2 linked regions of the Homo sapiens genome follow. The protein of the gene in region 1 interacts with the protein of each later gene in a pairwise test. Each region holds a gene or a part of one and is shown in the gene's direction. Other genes may lie near its edges. The genes, in order: SCGB1A1 and GATM.

What was found.
Region 2: the proteins of SCGB1A1 (region 1) and GATM interact in binary tests that used the Homo sapiens proteins (3 or more experiments, as listed by UniProt).

What each region holds. Positions count from the first base shown.
Region 1 is NC_000011.10:62,411,546-62,422,032, forward strand, and holds the start of SCGB1A1 (uteroglobin precursor), read left to right. Parts: upstream 1-7,487; 5' UTR 7,488-7,550; coding exon 7,551-7,605; intron 7,606-10,487. UniProt on the Homo sapiens protein: Binds phosphatidylcholine, phosphatidylinositol, polychlorinated biphenyls (PCB) and weakly progesterone, potent inhibitor of phospholipase A2.
Region 2 is NC_000015.10:45,366,870-45,377,007, reverse strand, and holds part of GATM (glycine amidinotransferase, mitochondrial isoform 1 precursor), read left to right. Parts: intron 1-188; coding exon 189-407; intron 408-7,486; coding exon 7,487-7,682; intron 7,683-8,747; coding exon 8,748-8,938; intron 8,939-10,138. UniProt on the Homo sapiens protein: Transamidinase that catalyzes the transfer of the amidino group of L-arginine onto the amino moiety of acceptor metabolites such as glycine, beta-alanine, gamma-aminobutyric acid (GABA) and taurine yielding the corresponding guanidine derivatives.

The sequences.
Region 1 (10,487 bases):
GCTCCATCTGCAGAAACAGGGAAAGCCAGGTCCCTCTGTGCCTGGGCACAGCTCACAGCTGGTTGTTGTGGGGGGAGTTGCCCACAGGATGCCACTTTGCAGCCCAGAAGGACATCCATATGCCGGGCAGACGGGAACATCTCTGCAGATTCTTAATATGCTGCTCACATCCTAGTTTGTGGGCCGAGTGACAACTGGGAAAGTGACCAAGATCCTGGTGGAAAATCAGAACAGTTGACAACCACACTCCCCCACCTCTCACACCTTCCCACTCCTGCTTCCCCAGGCCTGGCGTATTACCACCAACAACCACTCTGGAGTGGGAGCTGAAGGGCTCCCAGGCTAGGGAGAGTACCTACAAATGAAGAGTGGTCGCTCCTCTAAATCCAGGCACCTCTCCCACAGAAAGAGTCCCCAGGGCGGGAGGAGGCACACGCGTTGCTCTGTGGTTTGTAACAGCAGAAAAACTGGAAAAAAAAAAAAGTGCAAACGTCCATCAATAAGGCACTGGAAAATTAAATTACATTATATCCCTGCAAAGATGACATTACATCCATGAAAAGGGATATCCCACAGCATGAAAAAATCAAAGGTGTCCAGGCACGGTGGCTCATGCCTATAATCCCAGCACTTTGGGAGGCTAAGATGGGCTGATCACCTGAGGTCAGGAGTTCAAGACCAGCCTGGCCAACATGGTGAAACCCCGTCTCTACTAAAAATACAAAAAATTAGCCAAGCATGGTGGCGCCTGCCTGTAGTCTCAGCTACTTGGGAGGGTGAGGCAGGAGAATCACTTGAACCTGGGAGGCGGAGGTTACAAGTGAGCCGAGATCATACCACTGCACTCCAACCTGGATGACAAGAGTGAAACTCCATCTCAAAAAAAAAAAAAAAAAAAGAAAAGAAAAAGAAAATTAGCCGGATGTGGTGGCACACAACTGCAGTCCCAGCTACCCAAGAGATTGAGGCAGGAGGTTCCCTTGAGCCCAGAAGTTTGAGGCTACAGTGAGCCGTGATCACACCACTGCACTCCAGCCTAGGTGACAGAACAAGATCCTGTCTCAGAAAATAATAATAGGCCGGGCACGGTGGCTCACACCTGTAATCCCAGCACTTTGGAAGGCCGAGGCGGGCGGGTCACTTGAGGTCAGGAGTTCAAGACCAACCTAGCCAACATGGCGAAACCCCATCTCTACTAAACATACAAAAAATTAGCCAGGTGTGGTGGTGCATGCCTGTAGTCCCAGCTACTCAGGGGGCTGAGGCACGAGAATCGCTTGAACCTGGGAGGCAGAGGTTGCAGTGAGCCGAGATCATGCCATCATGCCACTGCACTCCAGCCTGGGTGACAGAGCGAGACTCTGTCTCAAAAAATAATAATAATAATAATTTTGACCCTAAAAACGGATTATGCATTTGGTACATATAATTTAAACTTTATTACATTTGCATACAACTACATAATAGTTGAACTAAAATGCAGTTTACTCGTTGAAATTGTTATCAATATCCATTAATTACAATTTTGAGATTTTCTTTTTGTGTTTTGCAGCCAGCAGATACATGACCATTTTTGAGGCCATCTAAAGGCTCACAGGCCCTAGGCATTGTGGCTGGTGGACAGAAAGGCTGGAATGTCCAGAGGTTGCCAGGCTCCTCCTAGGAGGTCCCTGGGTCAATCAATGCAGGCGTCAGCCCCAGGAGCTGCCAAGGCAGAAGAGAATGAACCAAACCCCTAAGGAAAAACCTACTCTGCTCAAGAGTTATTTCCTGAGCACTAGAAGAGCTGGATACTCAGGGTGGAGGGAGGAAGCTGACCTCTACGGCTTGCCCCGGGAGCTGACCCAAGCCCATGGCCCGACTAGTCCTCCCCCAGCAGCCCAGCCGGATGGATAGGCTCGGAACAGGCCGCCAACCTGTTGTCTGGGCCACGCTGGGACTTGCAGCCAGCCAGCTGCCAGCACACTGCACCCCAGCTTCCTGCTCATTACAATACACCAAGCACTGAACCTGGGGGCAAGCACCTGGCCTCAGCCAATGCCTTCTGGCAGTATGGGCTGGGGCTGCTGCTGGCCCAACCCCTCCCACCTGCCATTGCCACCAGACCTCTAGCTGGGGACATAGGCAGGGCTCCCCAAGGAGCACTGAACATGGCTCAACAACCTGGCACCCACATGTGCACCCACCATATCCCATACATGGAGGAGGGGCCAGCAGATCCAGGGCCTTGTAGTCCAAATACCCAGGAGAGGCTTCCAGGCCCCTTAGTACCCTCCCGCTTCTGGCTCTGGAGAGGCTCTTTCTCCTGCTCCATTCTCAAAGGCCAGAGCCAGGCCAAAGGTGCTCACGTCATCCCAGCTGGAGCCTGGGCAAGGGGTGAGCTCAGAGCAGGCTCCCCAGCCACTGCCCCAGCTGGAAGGTTCAGCCACCCAAGGACCAGGGCTCCCCCAGATCTAGGCACAGCCAACACAGGGTTTGGGGTGCAGGATTTGGCAGGAGCTGTTCCGATTCACTGCCATCCTCATGGTACTAATAGCCACATGGCTTATCTTCCCTCGGAACAGTTTGTCTTTGCACGGTGACCAGGTAGGTAACTGACCACATGTGGCCAGAAACAGCAGGTCCCAGTCCTCTCCACATGCTAAGTCAGGCTTGAGGGTTCTGGCCTGGAACTCACAGTGTATAGAGTTTAAGGATTTGAGGAGCAGGTGTTAGAGTTTAAGAAGTTCTGAGTTCTGGCCAGGCATGGTGACTCACGCCTATAATCCCAGCACTTGCGGAGGCCAAGGCGGGAGAATCACCTGAGGTCAGAATTTGGAGACCAGCCTGGCCAACATGGTGAAATCCCATCTTTATTAATAATACGAAAATTAACAGGGCGTGGTGACGCACGCCTATAATACCAGCTATTTGGGAGGCTGAGGCAGGAGAATCGTCTGAACTCGGGAGGTGGAGGTTGCAGTGAGCCGCTGAGATCGTGCCATTGCACTCCAGCCTACGCAACAAAAGCGAAACTCCGTTTCCAGAAAAAAAAAAAAAAAAGCTCTGAGTTCCAAGCCTTGACTAACACACTTTTTGCCTCACTATCTCAAGCAGAGGGTCAGAAGAGCAGGGGCTTTGCAGGGTCCTGAGGCAGGGGAGAGAAACACCCACCGCCACCAAGCAGGATCTCCCAAGGGCCAGATGGCAGAGCCTATCTGGGACACTTGGTGGTGGCAGTCGAGGTACCTTCCAGAATCAGAGCAAACCTCCAACCTCGCACCTGAAAGGCCAGTGCCCCCGGTGCCCCCAGACTCCCACTGTACCTGTGTGCTTATCTGTCCCATGCATGTCGGACCATGGCCAGGTCCCCTCCTGAGCCTGGGCCCCCTTCATGTGGCTTCCTCCTCCTGGCACATCCCCCGCTTCACCCCAACCACCAGCATCACCCATCCACCAGAGGCCAGCTCAAATGCCAGCCCTCCACGTGCCCTCTCCCCTCTGCCCAGCTACCTTTCTTGGGGCAGCCCCCTTTCTTTTTTTTTTTTTTTTTTTCCTTTTTTTTTGAGACGGAGTTTCGCTCTTGTTGCCCAGGCTGGAGTGCAGTGACGCGATCTCGGCTCACCGCAACCTCTGCCTCCCAGGTTCAAGCGATTCTTCTGCCTCAGCCTCCCAAGTAGCTGGGATTACAGGCAAGCACCACCACAAGCCCAGCCAATTTTGTATTTTTAGTACAGACAGGGTTTCTCCATGTTGTTCAGGCTGGTCTCGAACTCCCAACCTCAGGTGATCCGCCTGCCTTGGCCTCCCAAAGTGCTGGGATTACAGGCATGAGCCACCACGCCCAGCCTGGGGGCAGCCCCCTTTCAACTCCCGGAGCACCATTTCCTTCTCTGACTTCCTCCATCTCCCCACAGAGCATTCCCATCAGTTGCACCCATCTCTGTCTCTCCTCCTAGCTGTTAAGTTCCTCAAAGACCCAGGAGCCAGCTATCCTGTCCCCAGGACCTCGCACCATGAAGGTGGAAAGTAGAGAGCAGAGTCTGAGGCTATGGGTGATGTGACTCCTGCCTAAGACCCCTGCAGCCATCACAGCTGCCCCGGCCAGACCAGCCACTGCCCACAGAGGGATCCACTAGTGGCGGCACTGGATGGGCTTTAGGTGCCCCCAGTGGTCCAGCTCATCTTCCTTGCCCATTTCAGCTCCATTGGCCACAGCTTTCTTTTGTTTGTTTGTTTGTTTATTTATTTATTTATTTTTGAGATGGAGTTTCGCTCTTGTTGTCCAGGCTGGAGTGCAATGGTGTGATCTCGGCTCACTGCAACCTCCACCTCCTGGGCTCAAGTGATTCTCCTGCCTCAGCCTCCCAAGTAGCTGGGATTACAAGCACCTGCCACCACGCCCGGCTAATTTTTGTATTTTTAGTAGAGAGGGGGTTTCACCATGTTGGCCAGGCTGGTCTCAAACTCTCGACGACCTCAGTTGATCTGCCCTCCTCAGCCTCCCAAAGTGCTGGGGTTACAGGCAGGCTACACCTTTCAACAGTCCCTAAGAGGGGAGGGATGCAGACACCTGAAATCCTCAAGATGGGCTAACCTCAAGAGCCCAGATGATGGGACACAGAAGGAAACTTAAAAGAAAGAAGGCACTTCTGAGATGCTTTATGCAAATACAAGCAAATGCATATGTGGATTCTTTTTGCTTTTTTTTGAGACGGAGTCATGCTCTGTCACCAGGCTGGAGGTGCAGTGGCATGATCTCGGCTCACTGCAACCTCTGCCTCCTGGGCTCAAGTGATTCTCGTGCCTCAGCCTCCCGAGTAGCTGGGATTACAGGCAAGCGCCACCATACCCAGCTTTTTGTATTTTTTTAGTAGAGACGGGGTTTCACTATGTTGGCCAGGATGGTCTCAATCTGACCTTGTGATCCACCCGCCTCAGCCTCCCAAAGTGCTGGGATTACAGGCGTGAGCCACCGCGCCCAGCCTTCTCTTTGTTCTTTTTTGCTCTATTCATGCCTTGTTTTTCCCCCTTTGCAGTCTGCCTTGGAGATCATTTCACCATCAGCTCAGAAGATCTTCTTTCTCTGTTTTCAGCCACACAGCGTTTCATTGTAAGGACACACCATAACGTACTTGACAAGTCTTTGTTGGTTGCTAGTTTAGAACGTGTGCTCTTACCGGTGTTAAGGCGTCTCGGAGTGGGACGGTTCCGGGGTCACCACAGCCTTCAACTGTCACATGGCACAAAGGCCTCATGCATGGATTCATTCCAGGGATTCCTGTTTAGCAAGCGTTGCGTACCTTGGCTTACAGCGGCCTCAGCCCTAAAGGAGGTCAGTCAAGTAAAGGAGTCATACAAGAAAATAAGAATTGCAAAGTTAAAATATTGTATAATGGGCCCTGTAAGCAGAGGGGGAAGAGAGGCCCATGGGGAGAGTCACCACCCATCAGAACCACCTGTCGGGGAAGGCTTCACTCCCTATTTTCACCCCCAACCCTATTTTTCCCAAGTCTTCTCTGTGTCAGGAAATAACACCCCATTCCCCCAGCTGCCCAAGTCAGGGTCAGTTCATCAGGAAAGGGATATCAGACCATGTCACTCCCTGATTAAAACCTTCAAGAGCTTCCCACTCTGAGTGTAAAGGCCTTAGAACGAGGCCTTGTGTGCTCTGGCCCCTGAATGCCCCCTTTGCAGGCACAGCAACCCTTTCGAAGCCCTCAGGCACAATGGGGTCCTTCTTTTTTTTTTTTTTTTCTGAGACGGAGTTTTGCTCTTGTTGCCCAGGCTGGAGTGCAATGGCGTGATCTCAGCTCACCGCAATCTATGACTCCCAGATTCAAGCAATTCTCCTGCCTCAGCCTCCCAAGTAGCTGGGATTACAGGTGCCCACCACCACATCCAGCTAATTTTTGTATTTTTAGTAGAGACGGGGTTTCATCATGTCAGCCAGGCTGGTCTCAAACTCCTGACCTTAGGTGATCCACCTGCCTCAGCCTCCCAAAGTCCTGGGATTACAGGCATGAGCCACCCTGTCTGGCCTTTTATTTGTTTATTTATTTTTATTTATTTATTTATTTTTGAGGAGTTCTTGAAGTGCCACGCAATGCCTCTCCATGTCTATCTACCCCAGTTCCCGACTCCTAGCACCACATCTGGCACATCATAGGTGGTCAGCATTTATTGGATGAATGAATGGATCAATATTTGATTGAGTCTTGAAGTACGAATAGAATTTGGCGAAGTGGACAAGGCAGGAAATGTGTATTCAGGCATGAGGCTTAGCTTGTGCATAGGTAGAAAGGCATGAAAAAACATGGAACATTCTCGAATCCACAAATAGTAAGAGAGGGCTAAGTCGTTGTGTGGGGGAGAGGAGAAATGAAGTTCAAATGGTAGGCAAAGGTCAGTGGGCAAGGGCCTTGTAAATTGCACTTGAATTTTATTCTTTAGGCAAAAGGAAGAGTTTAAGGGTTTCAAGAAGAAGGACACGACCAGTGGGTTTTAGGAAGATCATTCTGATGGCCTTTCAGAGGATGGCTGAGGAGAGCTAGCAGGGAGGCAGGGAGGTCGAGTCAGGGGATTTTGACCAGGCCAGGTTAGGTGCTATGAGGCCCGGGCTTTGGAGAAGAACCAGGAAATGGCAACTGGAGGCAAGAAAGGGGAGAAGGCCAAAGCCTGGGAACCATCAACACTTAAGAACAGTAAAGAATAAACATCTAAAGAGAACAAGAAGGAATGGCCAGAAGAAGGAAAACAGGAAAGAACTGAGGCGTGGGAGCGCAAGAGAGAGAATGGTTCGAGAAGGAAGCAGTCACAGGTGTCAAGGCCATTGGGAGGTCAAGTGAGATAAGGACTGAAGGTCCCACCAATTGGGCCATCAGGAGCACAGGACTTGAGAGCACTTCTGGGTGGGAACAGACCCAGCCTGGGGCAGGGCTCAGGTTTCTGATGGGAATTCTGGAAGGGTCCCTTTTATTCAACATGCTTCAATCCAGGGGCCCCCGAAGTCTGACCACAGCAATGCTCCAAACCATGTGTCTTTCCTGGCTTAAGGTTCAGTCGCCCTCCTCAGAGGGGAGCCTATGAAAGAGCCCAGTGGAGTGTCAGGGTCCTGAGTCCTAGTCCTAGTCCTGTCCCTGCCACTTGTGAGGGAACTTGGGCCTCAGTTTCTCCAGGTGGGCTCCACAATTGCTTCTCTTGATCTGGACTGCCCCAGTGCCCAGGTTCAGTGAGTGACACAGGCAGCTGGGTTTCCACATCCTCTGACTTGGGTTCCCTTCACTGCCTCCAGGCAGGGCTCGGCCCTCCACCCCCAAGTGGCCCATTGTGTGAGCTCAGTTTCAGTGGGGACAGAAACTGGGTTGAGAAAAGGGAATATTTACCTATCCCACCAAGCCAATGCCAAGTAAATAGTGCAGTATCTTATGTAGAGCCCTTGCCCTGCCCTTCCCCATCTGGGTGCTGCTGCCTAGAGCATATAAAAGGCACCTTGCTGGGCATGTCTCATACTAGCCCACCAGACTCAGAGACGGAACCAGAGACGGGCCAGAGCATCCCCCTCCTCCACCATGAAACTCGCTGTCACCCTCACCCTGGTCACACTGGCTCTCTGCTGCAGCTCCGGTGAGTGCTCAGAGACCCTTCCCTCCCTCCTGGACTTAGGAACTCTCAGGACCCCCCAGTTCTGCTCAGAAGAAGGAGTGAGCTGCCCATTCCTGCTCTGGAGCTGCTGGGAGGACCTGGGCATGCTGAGTCTCAGAAAACTGGGTCTGGTGAGCAAGCTCATCTTGGAAACTTGGAGAGAGCCCCAGGCTGTAAGGAAGCCTAAAAAGGGTCCCATCTTCTATATCCAACAACCCTCAGAATCCCAGGGAATGGAATAGCCTGGAGGGAGGAGTGGAGAATACCCCATAAAGATGAGTACATCCAGCATAGGAATAATGAGGCCCTCATCCCAGATCTGGACAGACTCCAAGATGCTGAGACCTTGGTGCAGCCTCCAAGTCTGGGGTCTCCACTCCATGCTGGCAGCTGAAGTCACTGGAAGGGGAGCTGCAGGGACTCGTGACCCCAAAAGAAACCCAACCCAAGACAAGGTCTCTCATTCTGGGCACAGAGGAATATTCCAGAAAGAGAGCTTCCCTTTGGGGAACTGCCAACCCAGAGTGAAGTTTTCTAAACATTTCCGTCCTCTGCAAAAGGGATTAGGAGTCTCTGAGTAGTTGCTGCTGTCACTAAAAGGAAAAGAACTGTGGGGGGAAGAGGGGCAGAAAGAGAGACGGAGAGAGGGGGAGAAAGGAAGGAAAGAAGGATCACAGCTCTCTCCAAGATCCCCCGTCTTTGGGGAACTGGGTTATCTAACTCTGTTTTTCACTCTGCGTCAGCCTCTTCCATTCTCATCTGAAAATGCTGTTGTTATTTTTTAATAAACAAACTCCAATTAATTCACTTGGAAAGCTTCACAACACCCATGGAGATAAGTTTTATGACCCTGGGGAGTTAGAAAACCCAAACCAAGAAGCAGTAGGAACAACTATTTTGCAGAGAGGTTTATTTGTTTTTCAGAGAAAATGACATCATTTTGGACTGAAATGTGTATTAATTAGAAGATCTCAGTGCTGTCTGCGTACAGAGGTGGGTGGCTGAGCAAGATAGGACTGCAACATGTTAAGGGGTGGGTCAGAGATGCATTTGTCTATTTGTGTGCACATGCATACAATATTTAACACTTACTTCACACAATGTGCCAATCACTGTCACCCTTTCACATAATATCTCTTTTCATTCTTTTTTTTTTTTTTTTTTGAGACAGAGTCTCGCTCTGTTGCCAGGCTGGAGTGCAGTGGCGCGATCTCAGCTCACTGCAACCTCCGCCTCCCGGGTTCAAGCGATTCTCCTGCCTCAGCCTCCCAAGTAGGTGGGATTACAGGCACGCACCACTGCACCCAGCTAATTTTTGTATTTTTAGTAGAGACAGGGTTTCACCATGTTGGCCAGGATGGTCTCCATCTCTTGACCTCGTGATCCACCCACCTAGGCCTCCCAAAGTGCTGGGATTAGGCGTGAGCCACCATGCCTGGCCTCTCTTTTTATTCTTACAACAACCCTATGAAGTAGGGATATTGGGCCAGGCACGGTGGCTCACGCCTGTAATCCCAGCAATTTGGGAGGCCGAGGTGGGTAGATCACTTGAGGTCAGGAGTTCAGGACCAACCTGGCCAACATGGTGAAACCTTGTCTCTATTAAAAATACAAAAATTAGCCAGGCATGGTGGCGCATGCCTGTAGTCCCAGCTACTTGGGAGGCCGAGGCAGGAGAATCACTTGAACCTGGGAGGCAGAGGTTGCAGTCAGCCGAGATGGCATCACTGCACTCCAGCCTGGGCAATAGAGCGAGACTCCGTCTGAAAACAAATAAATAAATAAAAATAAAATTTAAATTAAATTAAAATTTAAAAAATAAAAAATAAAATGAAGTAGGGATATTGTTCCCATTTTACAGATGAGAAAACTGAGCTACAGAAACACAGAGTGACTTGCCTGGTGACACAGTAAGTTACACATCAAGGACCTAAGTTCTGGAGAGGGTCTGACTTGGAGTGGCAATTTCTAGTGAGGCCCTAGAGTCAGAGGAGGGAAGGCAAATTTGTTCAGAAGGCAGAGAATTCAAGGAAAAGGGATTTGAGACTCACTGGGAAGATGGAGGCAAGCAGTGGGTAGAAAATGGTGACTTTCCCCCATGTTCCTGGTTGTAAGGACCTGAGAAGAAAACAGAGTCTGGAAGCTCTGTGTTGAAGGGAATGAAGTGGTACAAGTGGCTGCTCTGTCCATGAGCTGAGTGTGCCACAGGGCCCGCTGTGCACATGTGCACACCTCTTCCCGGCCAGGTTCGGGGGCCCATGTTTGGCTGGTACAATCTCAATGGCTTCTTTTCTTTTCTTTTCTTTTCTTCTTTTTCTTTTCTCTTGCTTGCTTGCTTGCTTGCTTGCTTGCTTGCTTTTTGAGACAGAATCTCGCTCTGTTGCCCAGGCTGGAGTGCAGTGACGAGATCTCAGCTCACTGCAACTTCTGCTTCCTGGATTCAAGTGATTCTCCTGCCTCAGCCTCCTGAGTAGCTAGGATTACGGGTGCCCAGAACCACGCCCGGCTAATTTTTTGTATTTTTAGTAGAGACGGGGTTTCACCATGTTGGCCAGGCTGGTCTCGAACTCCTGACCTCGTGATCTGCCTGCCTCGGCCTCCCAAAGTGCTGGGATTACAGGTGTGAGCCACCGTGCCTGGCTTACAATCGCTTTTTCCTGCCAGAGCCTGAATTTGTCACATGCCCCCAGTGAAGCATGGCTCAGGGCATCTCTAACCACTGATGAGAGGCAAGTTTCTGGTGGGAAATAAAACCCTCAGTGGCCTCTTCCCAGCCTCCACACTGCATTAAAAAATCAGGCCAGCAGCTTCTATGATCAATACTCTGCCTTGATCTCCAACAGAAAGAAAAACGGCACCTTGCT
Region 2 (10,138 bases), on another chromosome or scaffold:
AAGAGGGTTAAAAAAATTATCTGTAATCCCACTACCCACCTACACACTGTTAACGTCTTGGTTTATGCTGTTCTAAAGGGGTTTAAGTGGCAATGTTATGCTGGATTTTTACTCCATCTCCACTTCCTCCTCTCTGTAAGTACTGATAGAGCAATGCAATACAATAATCTTTTCTTTGTTCTTGGAAGCTTGGACGAACCTTGACAGGATGGGTGCAGCGAACTTTCCAGAGCACCCAGGCAGCTACGGCTTCCTCCCGGAACTCCTGTGCAGCTGACGACAAAGCCACTGAGCCTCTGCCCAAGGACTGCCCTGTCTCTTCTTACAACGAATGGGACCCCTTAGAGGAAGTGATAGTGGGCAGAGCAGAAAACGCCTGTGTTCCACCGTTCACCATCGAGGTGAAGGTAAAGGAAGGCTATTCACATGTCTGAAAGTGCGCTCCCTCCTCACCTGCTGCTGCTACCCTCTGACTGCTTTCCCTTCAGCTTACTCCCAGACCTCTCAATCCAGTGATTAAGTTATCTTACTTGACACCTCTGTGGTATTTGACACTATTTACACCAATGATAATTGCTTCCTTCCTGAAGAGCTTCCTGAAGCTCTTCCCTTGGATTCTGAGAGAGCTTTTCTGGGAATAATAGTTCTTTCACTGTCCTCAGATCTTCTTCCGTCACAGCCTGTAATGGCAAGGTTGAACAGAATATTACTTTCAGCCCCCTTCTCTTAGCCATTCTCACAGCTACCGCTCCCACCTCCTCTCTGGTCCGGATCTCTGTATTGAACTCCTTCCAGATCAACGAGTTAAACTCCTTACGGGATATTGCCACAGGACTTCAAACTTGGCACATCTGGAGTTCAGTTGCCAGCCACCTGCTCAAGTGGATCCCTCCTCATTCCTGCCTTTTAATTATTGGCATTCCTATTTAATCAAGCTAAAACACAAAAGAATCATCTTTGATTTCTCCTTATGTCACGTGATGTAACAAGGCTTTTGTCAAAAATGAATCTTGCCTCATTCCTCTGCTTTGCCTCTCCCTAAAGGTTGGGAGCTCATCTGCTGCCTGGACTATTGCAGTTAACTCCTAACTGGTCACTCCTACTCACTCTTCTCACCAAATCACCTGGCAGCTGCAATCCAAGTGATTTTTTAAAACTCAGATGTGATCATGTTACTCATCCTGCTTCTTTTCCTCCTGTACTTTGCTAGGCGACCCCCACTACCCCACCACCCCCCGCATTGTTTAGGATAAAGTCTTCATGGTATTCAAGATCCTTCACAATCTGACTCTTGTCTGCATTTCCAGGATTCCCCATTCCAGTTATTGACTCATCTGTTAGTACAGCAGATTAGCAGGTGTTCATTTCTGGTCAAGTCCCTCTATCCTCTAATATTCCACCCTGGTTTTCAGCAGACTTTATAAGACAACCATATAAGGCAGCTAAGCTAGACTACTCACTGTTTCTTCACAAGCCCTGCATCTTTGCCCCTACCTAAGTCTCTTCCATCCATCTTCCTGTGCCCTTTAGTCTGTAGTTTAAACCTACCACCACCTAGCTTCAATGACACCTTTCACAAAGTCTTCCAGGATTTCCCTGGCAACAAGTAATATCTCTCTTTTTAAAAACTCCTAGTGGTGGCCAGGCGCGGTGGCTCACACCTGTAATCCCAACACTTTGGGAGGCTGAGGCGGGTGGATCACGAGGTCAGGAGATCGAGACCATCCTGGCTAACACGGTGAAACCCCGTCTCCACTAAAAATACAAAAATTAGCCAGGCGTGGTGGCGGGTGCCTGTAGTCCCAGCTACTTGGGAGGCTGAGGCAGGAGAATGGCATGAACCCAGGAGGCAGAGGTTGCCGTGAGCTGAGATGGCGCCATTACACTCCAGCCTGAGCAACAGAGTGAGACTCCATCTCAAAAACAAACAAACAAACAAAAACTCCTAGTGGTTTTTATCTGTAACGTTCTTATATCCAGGGCCTCTATGGGCTGGTGTTCAGGTTCTATACTGCATAAGGATTCCATATCTAAGGGACCACTTTCCACATTGTAGACACAGCCTAGACTCCTATTAATAATGGGTTACAAATGTATCTTTAGTGTCCTTAAATTTTTCCTGAATATTTACACTTTTATTTGTAAAGTGGATTGAGGAAAGAAGTTCTGTAACAGCATTGTCGTGGTCTTCAGAAATATTGCCTACCATGTACCAGGGCTCTAGAGGTATTAATATAAAAGATCTTCCTTTCTATTTGAAGAGATTTGATGTTCACATAGAAACGAAGACCAAGTATCTTATTCCAGTCGACTGACAAGGCAGTTGAAGTGCCAGGAAAGAGGAATGACCAAGGGCTGGCCAGTTAAGAAGTCCTCTTGAAGAAAATGACTCCTGAGTTAGACTTGGAAGACAGGGAAATAGAAAAAGTAATAACTTCTAATTGTTCTGAAACTATCTTTGGTTCTGATATTTGGAATTTGATGAGAAGATTAATTTATACACCATCCACATGTTTTTAAAAGGCATAGTAGTCTTTTTAAGTCTTTTCTTGAAAAGTCCCATCCCCTAACCATTTTAATTGGGTGAAATTAAAATTTAAATCCAAGCAATAATTTATCCTTCTACTTGTCTTTAAAATGATAGACTTTCATATCATGCGATTTTACAGAATCAGAATTCTCAGAGGTAATTTTGAGTTCTTTGTCACTTGATTTATGACTTTAGACTTTGTCATTTCATGGACTTGTGGAAAAAGTACCATGCTGAAGTCAGGAGTCTGGGATTAATTAGGTATTTGATAAAAACTTGATAGCTAGTCTCGGTTACTTAGCTATTTGACCTTGTACAAGATTCCACAAATTTCTGGGCCACAGTAAAATGAAGATATTAAGAGGTTTGCTAGTTTGCTATCTACCTAACAGGATTAAGGATTAATCTAAAGATAAAAGGTTACATGTTAAGTATTTTAAAGGACAACACAACAACTTATTATAGTTGTATGGATCCAGTTTGCCAATTACATTCCAAAGGTACTTTGTCGGTGTAATAGTTGTAGATATCAGTAACATTAGCAGTATTGATTTCATTCGTCTGGTTCTTTTTGTTTGTTTATTCTTCTTTCTCTTTCTCTCTTTGATTCTAGACAGGAAATAATGGTTATTTCTGTTTCATGCCATGTGCTAAGCCTGGTTTTGAGGGAGAAGAAAGTAAATCTAAGACATGCATGGATCCTAGCAAGCAAGGCCATGCCTCGTAGTAGAGAAGAATGACACATATATTAATCAGTTTGGGAACAATAAAAGAAAAAATAATGTAGTAAACTGTCCATAGGCAATCAGAGCAGAAGATGTTGGAAGATATAAGTACTAGAGAAATTTTAAGGAAAGGAATGTGGAACATAATTGTTGGGAAGCATAATTTTTTAAAGCTCTGTGACTTTTTGTTCTGCAAAATATAGTAAATATCTGCTATCAAATATATATATATATAGATATATATTTTTTTAAGATGGAATCTCGCTGTCTCGCCCAGGCTGGAGTGCAGTGGCGTGAGCTCGGCTCGCTGCAAGCTCCGCCTCCTGGGTTCATGCCATTCTCCCACCTCAGCCTCCCAAGTAGCTGGGACTACAGGTGTCCCCCACCAGGCCTGGCTAATTTGTTTTTTTTGTATTTTTAGTAGAGACGGGGTTTCACCGTGTTAGCCAGGATGGTCTCGATCTCCTGACCTCGTGATCCACACGCCTTGGCCTCCCAAAGTGCTGGGATTGCAGGGGTGAGCCACCGTGCCCAGCCTCAAATATGTTTTTTGTTTTGCTTTTGTCTTTTAAAAATAAAGCCCTTGATAAAGGACCTTTTATAAAATACAAGATTAATCAAGATTAGTGTAATATAAGCTTACAGCTGGATAAATACATTTCTGTTGTCATTTCTTAGCCTTCCAAAGACAGTATTTAAAAATTCACTTGGCAAACCTTTGTAAAGGGTTTTAGGCTTTGAAAGAATATAAAGGTTCAAGGAATGCAGACATACCTTTGCAACAGATTATTAAAAGCATCATATGCTAAGCGTCTAATATAGTGTTCATCATCTTGCAAACAACTTGGTGAATGATTGCTGGCTCATTTAGCAGGGTTATAAAGGAAGTGTAAACAATTTCTAGCTATCTCTTGTAAAACGTATTGTGCCCTGATCATTTGTACTTTGCCCAACCTTTGCCAGATTATAAACTCTACAAGAAAAAATCACATTTGTTCAAATAACCTTTTTCTCCCAGGAAGGTTTAATTTATCAAGGCAAGCTTCACCCTGCACAAATAGTCACGGAGGATACTTTGGAATGAGTCTGGCAAGACAGCATAACTCTGCATCTGCTGTAACCCAGTGTTAAATTTTCAAAGGCTTCTTGTCCCTAGTGGATTGTAGGAGATGTGCCTGGCATGAGAAGGAGGAAGTGGTGAATGGATGAGTAGTACCAGCATGTATCTGAGAGGAATATAAAGAGTCATTATTATCCTCTTTCTGGTTGCTGTTGCAGAAATTCCTAGGAGTAGAAAACAGTGGAGTGCTTTTATTTTGTTTTTTGAAAGGGTAGCTTGGTCTTTAAAAATGTTTAATGATGATAACATTTTTCATTAGTCCAGAAATTCAGCCTGCTGTTTGCCTATAGACCTTAGTAAAAGAGCTAATTAATGATTCAGACCCCAGGCGTCAGCAAACTTCATCTTTCTACCAGATAATAAGTAATTTAGGCTTTGCAGACCATCGGTCTCTGTTGCAACTACTCAACTCTCAGCTGTGCCATTGTAGTGCAAAAGCAGCCATAGACAATACGTAAACAAATGAATGTGCCTGCGTTCCTGTAAAACTTTATTTACAAAAACAAGCAGCAGGCCAAATTTGCCTATGGACCTTTTTTTACCAGCCTCTGTTTAAGACTTTCACTGGCATCATTCAGTTTTTCTAAAGACCTGTTTCTTGGCTTATTCCTTATTCACCAAGCTAGGTTCCAGCGTAACTGATGTGAACCTGGATATTGAACTAACCAGAGATGGGTCCACTTTCATATATTTGATATTTGTCAGACTGAGATAAAAATGGAAGTCGAGACACAAAATCTAGAAAAGATATTGTTTTTGACATTAAAGAGCTAAACATCTAGACATTTGATCAGTCTTGATGAGTAAAAGCCATTGGGACAATTTGAACTTGTTAAGCAATTCCAGTCTTAAAAGTTTTTGCACATCTAGTTAGAAGTGTTCAAACCAGTATAACATGGCCAAGTCCCATGATGTATTAGGGACACTCTTTGAGTAACAGTCAGAGAACTTGAGTTCTAGTCCTGCTTGTCCAGATAGCTAGCAAGCATGTGACCTGCCAGAGCCTCTTTCCTTACATGTGAAATAAGCATATGAGAACTTGCCCTGTTTCTTTGATAGGATTGCTGGGAAACCAAATGAGAATATCCAGCTAAAGTAGACACACTGTGACACACTTGAGCCCATTACCAAGTTTTACACCTTTCTAGTACTTATTGCTATCTGAAATTATCTGATTTATGGTGGAGACTGTCATATCTGACATGATCAGGACTAGTAGTTTGTCAGTTCATCAATTATATAAATAAACATTTTTAAAATACCTGCTTTAACCAGTTTTAAACAAAAATTTAAATTAAAACACTTAAAACATTTTTAAACTTAAAATATATCAATGTACATTGCTTTGCTAATCTTTTGATGAAGGTTCAAGGCTTTTTCTTAGAGTCTGGATTCTCTGATTGGCGTTCTGCTTCATTTAGCTTGAAAAATGGGAAGATGCATCACGTACATTTCTCAATGTATTTATGATTGAGAAATTGACTAAGAACTTAGACATTTGGAAAACAATCTGAATGCAGAATCTGTCTAGATTTTTACATTTTTGAAAACCAATATTTTGGCCGGGCATGGTGGCTCACACCTATAATCCCAGCCCTTTGGGGGGCCGACGCGGGTGGATCACGAGGTCAGGAGATTGAGACCAGCCTGGCCAACATGGTGAAACCCTGTCTCTACTAAAAATACAAAAAATTAGCCGGGCGTGGTGGCATGCGCCTGTAATCCCAGTTACTCAGGGAGTTGAGGCAGGAGAATCATTTGAACCTGGTGGGAGGCGGAGGTTGCAGTGAGCTGAGATGGTGCCATTGCACTCCTGTCTGGGCAACAGAGTGAGACTCCATCTCAAAAACAAAAACAAACAAACAACAATATTTAACAGCTGTTGCACCTACCCTATTCAACAATAATTTTTAGCAAACTGATTGAGCCATTTTAAAGCATTCAAATGTTTTCTCTTTAGTTGTCTTCTAAAATACACATAGCCCTGGAAACTTTCTAAATTTTTTTTCAGTTATTAAAAATTTGTGAATTTGCTTATCATATCACTTCCTTGTATGACAAAAAGACTTGAAGAGATGTGAGAGCTGAATGGATTAGAAAAAGGAGAGGTGTGGTTGGTATGAGGCATATTGACAGGGAATTACCAAAGGCAGATTTGCACTGTCACACAATTTTGGCAAGTGTTAATTCTGTTGAATGGGAAAATCAATAATGTTTTTTTTTTTCTTTTTCTTTTTCTTTTTCTTTTTTTTTTTTTGAGACAGAGTCTCGCTTTGTCACCCAGGCTGGAGTGCAGTGGCACGATCTCAGCTCACTGCAACCTCTGCCTCCTGGGTTCAAGCAATTCTCCTGCCTTGGCCTCTGAAGTAGCTGTGACTACAGGCACGTGCCACCATGCCTGGCTAATTTTTGAATTTTTAGTAGAAATGGGGTTTCCCCATGTTGGCCAGGCTGGTCTTGAACTCCTGACATCAAGCTATCTGCCCGCCTCAGCCTCCCAAAGTGCTGGGGTTACAGGCTGAGCAACCATGCCTGGCCAATAATGGGGTTTTAAGAGAAATAAAGCATATTTGAAAGTATGCTCCTGATCTTAACGGGGCAAAATATCTTTTTTTTTCCCTTCACAAAATATCTTGAGGTGCTATTTTCTAGACAGAATTCTGAGATGCATGGATAGCCCATGGTTTTGGCTTAGTATAAGTGCTTTTATTCTCTTATGCTAGTTTGTGTGTTCTCTTGTTTCATTTTATTGAGGCTCTCTAATAGAAGTGCTATGTCCTGTTTTGTCTGCAAAGCATGGCAAAAAAACTGGCCAAGAGGATTCCAAGTCTGTCTGAAGGTAAACATGCTGTTAGTGGTTGGCCATGAGATCTCAGGCAGGAGGAGCAAAAGGCCTCAAAATATCAAGATGTTTTAGAGTTCTTCATTCAACAGATACTGAGTGTCTGCCCAGAGGGCTTATGTGCTCAATGCTAGGGATCAGCACTGAACATGGAGTGGTTGGAGTCTCAATTCCAATACCTTATACAAAGAGCTGTTTACTGCCTATGAACCTATCATGAGCTGTATTTTTCTCCTGTAAGTATTGTGTTTATTTGCTTCTACTTCCAGGCCAACACATATGAAAAGTACTGGCCATTTTACCAGAAGCAAGGAGGGCATTATTTTCCCAAAGATCATTTGAAAAAGGCTGTTGCTGAAATTGAAGAAATGTGCAATATTTTAAAAACGGAAGGAGTGACAGTAAGGAGGCCTGACCCCATTGACTGGTCATTGAAGTATAAAACTCCTGATTTTGAGTCTACGGGTAAGTGATGTCAGATAACTAAACTGCCAGTGTCTGAATTTTCAATTTCTTTCTTAATGTGTAAGGGGAAAGCTCCAAAAAATTTCTTGGAGAGTCCTTTGCTTTGCTAGTTCTTGAAAACTTTAAAGATTTATTTAGGAATGGTTTGGTCCATGTTGATATGATTAAGATGTATACATTCTAAACTCCATTCCATCTCGTGGAATCTCCTTGAAATGACAAGTTTTCCTAAACTTTATAGCCATTTCCTTACATAATAACAGTGGATTCGTTTAATTTTCCTCAAGAACAGAAATTAAAAGGGGAATAGAAACATTTCCATTTTATTTTTAACTGACATTGCTGCATGACTGTTCTTGTGCCTTAGGTCACTGTTCTAATTTCTAGTTTTAGATTGATCCTTGGCTCAATTTTTATCTTGTGATACCGATAGTCCTTTAAGAGCTGTGTTTCTGTATAGCAAGAAAGGAGCTTACAAATGGTGAAAGCTTGGTGGTTCAAGATCTCTTTGTACAAGGACTTTATTCCTTCACTTTTTTTTCTTTTCTTTTTTTTCTGGGCTTCCCCCCCACCACACAATTCATGTTAACAATCTAGTATGTGTTATTCGAATTTTTTGCTATTTTCATATATATATACACACATGTATTTCTAGCAATTTTTTTAACCAAAAAAAGAGGTAATATTATATAGACATTTTTTGTTTGTTTGTTTGAGACAGAGTCTCACTCTGTCGCCCAGGCTGGAGTGTGGTGGCACAATCTCGGCTCACTGCAGCCTTTGCCTCTTGGTTCAAGTGATTCTCCTGCCTCAGTCTCCCGAGTAGCTAGGATTACAGGCACGTGCCACCATGCCTGGCTAATTGTTTTCGTATTCTTTTAGTAGAGATGGGGCTTGACCATGTTGGCCAGGCTGCTCTTGAAGAGGATCAAGTGATCCGCCCGTCTTGGCCTCCCAAAGTGGTGGGATTACAGGCATGAGCCACTGTGCCTGGCCCTATATAGACCTTTTTTGTCTTGGAAATTAACACTACTGAAGTTGTCATGGAATTTTTTGGTCTGACAGGTTTATACAGTGCAATGCCTCGAGACATCCTGATAGTTGTGGGCAATGAGATTATCGAGGCTCCCATGGCATGGCGTTCACGCTTCTTTGAGTACCGAGCGTACAGGTCAATTATCAAAGACTACTTCCACCGTGGCGCCAAGTGGACAACAGCTCCTAAGCCCACAATGGCTGATGAGCTTTATAACCAGGTGAGTCCCTAATTATAGGCTAGCTTATTACTAACTTTTCTAAATGATCCACAAAGAGTAAGATAGAGATTCTCTGATACCTTGTATATATTATGCATTTTAGAAACCGAAAACATCATCTTATTTTTAAAAAGTGATTATTTTATGATGAATATGATAAGAGTAAATGATCCTATGATAATAATAATAATGGCTAACACTTTTTGGTGCTTACCTTGTTCTGGGTCCTGGGTTAAACCCTTTATTTACATCCTCAATCCTGTTTGTTTTTCACAACAACCCTAATCATACTGTAGTATCATTCCATTAGATGGGGAAAAACTTGCCTACAGGTGTACCACTGTTCATTAGTGGAACCAGAAAAGTCACTAGACTGAAGTTCACTTTCTTCTTCTAGAAAAAGAACCTGATCTACAGTTCAAATTCACAGTAAAATGAAATGTATGTCCCTTATTAAATCAGTTACCATTTGATCTTTTATAGAAAAAAATTTAAAAATCAAAATAGCTTCTGGGTTTAAAGACAGAAATAAATAATGAATTAGTTTTGCCACTCCCAATCAAATTTGGCAGGGGAAACATGGCATCTCGTTTTATGGTATGAGTTAAGCTCGGGACCAAATTCCTTTTCTAAAAGAACAGAATGACTTCATCCTGTTTACTTTCCGTACGGTTCATGGAATATTCTCAGAATCAGTTACTGCCTCTGTATCACTTTTTTTTTTTTTTTGAGATGGAGTCTTGCTCTGTCACCCAGACTGGAGTGCAGTGGCGTGATCTCGGCTCACTGCAGCCTCTGCCTCCCGGGTTCCAGCAATTCTCCTGCCTCAGCCTCCTGGGTAGCTGGGATTACAGGTGCATGCCACCATGCCTGACGAATTTTTGTATTTTTAGTAGAAACGGGGTTTCACCATGTTGGCCAGGCTGGTCTCGAACTCCTGACCTCAGGTGATCCACCTGCCTTGGCCTCCCAAAGTGCTGGGATTACAGGCATGAGCCATCTCACCTGGTGTGTACCATTTTTTTCTAAGTACATAGTGCCCCTTCATCCTCAGGGGATATGTTCCAGACTCTCAGTGGATGCTGATACTGAACTCTATATATTTTGTTTTTTCCTGTACATATATACATACCTATGATAAAGTTTAATTTACAAATTAGGCACAGTAAGAGCCTAACAACAATAATGAATAATAAAATG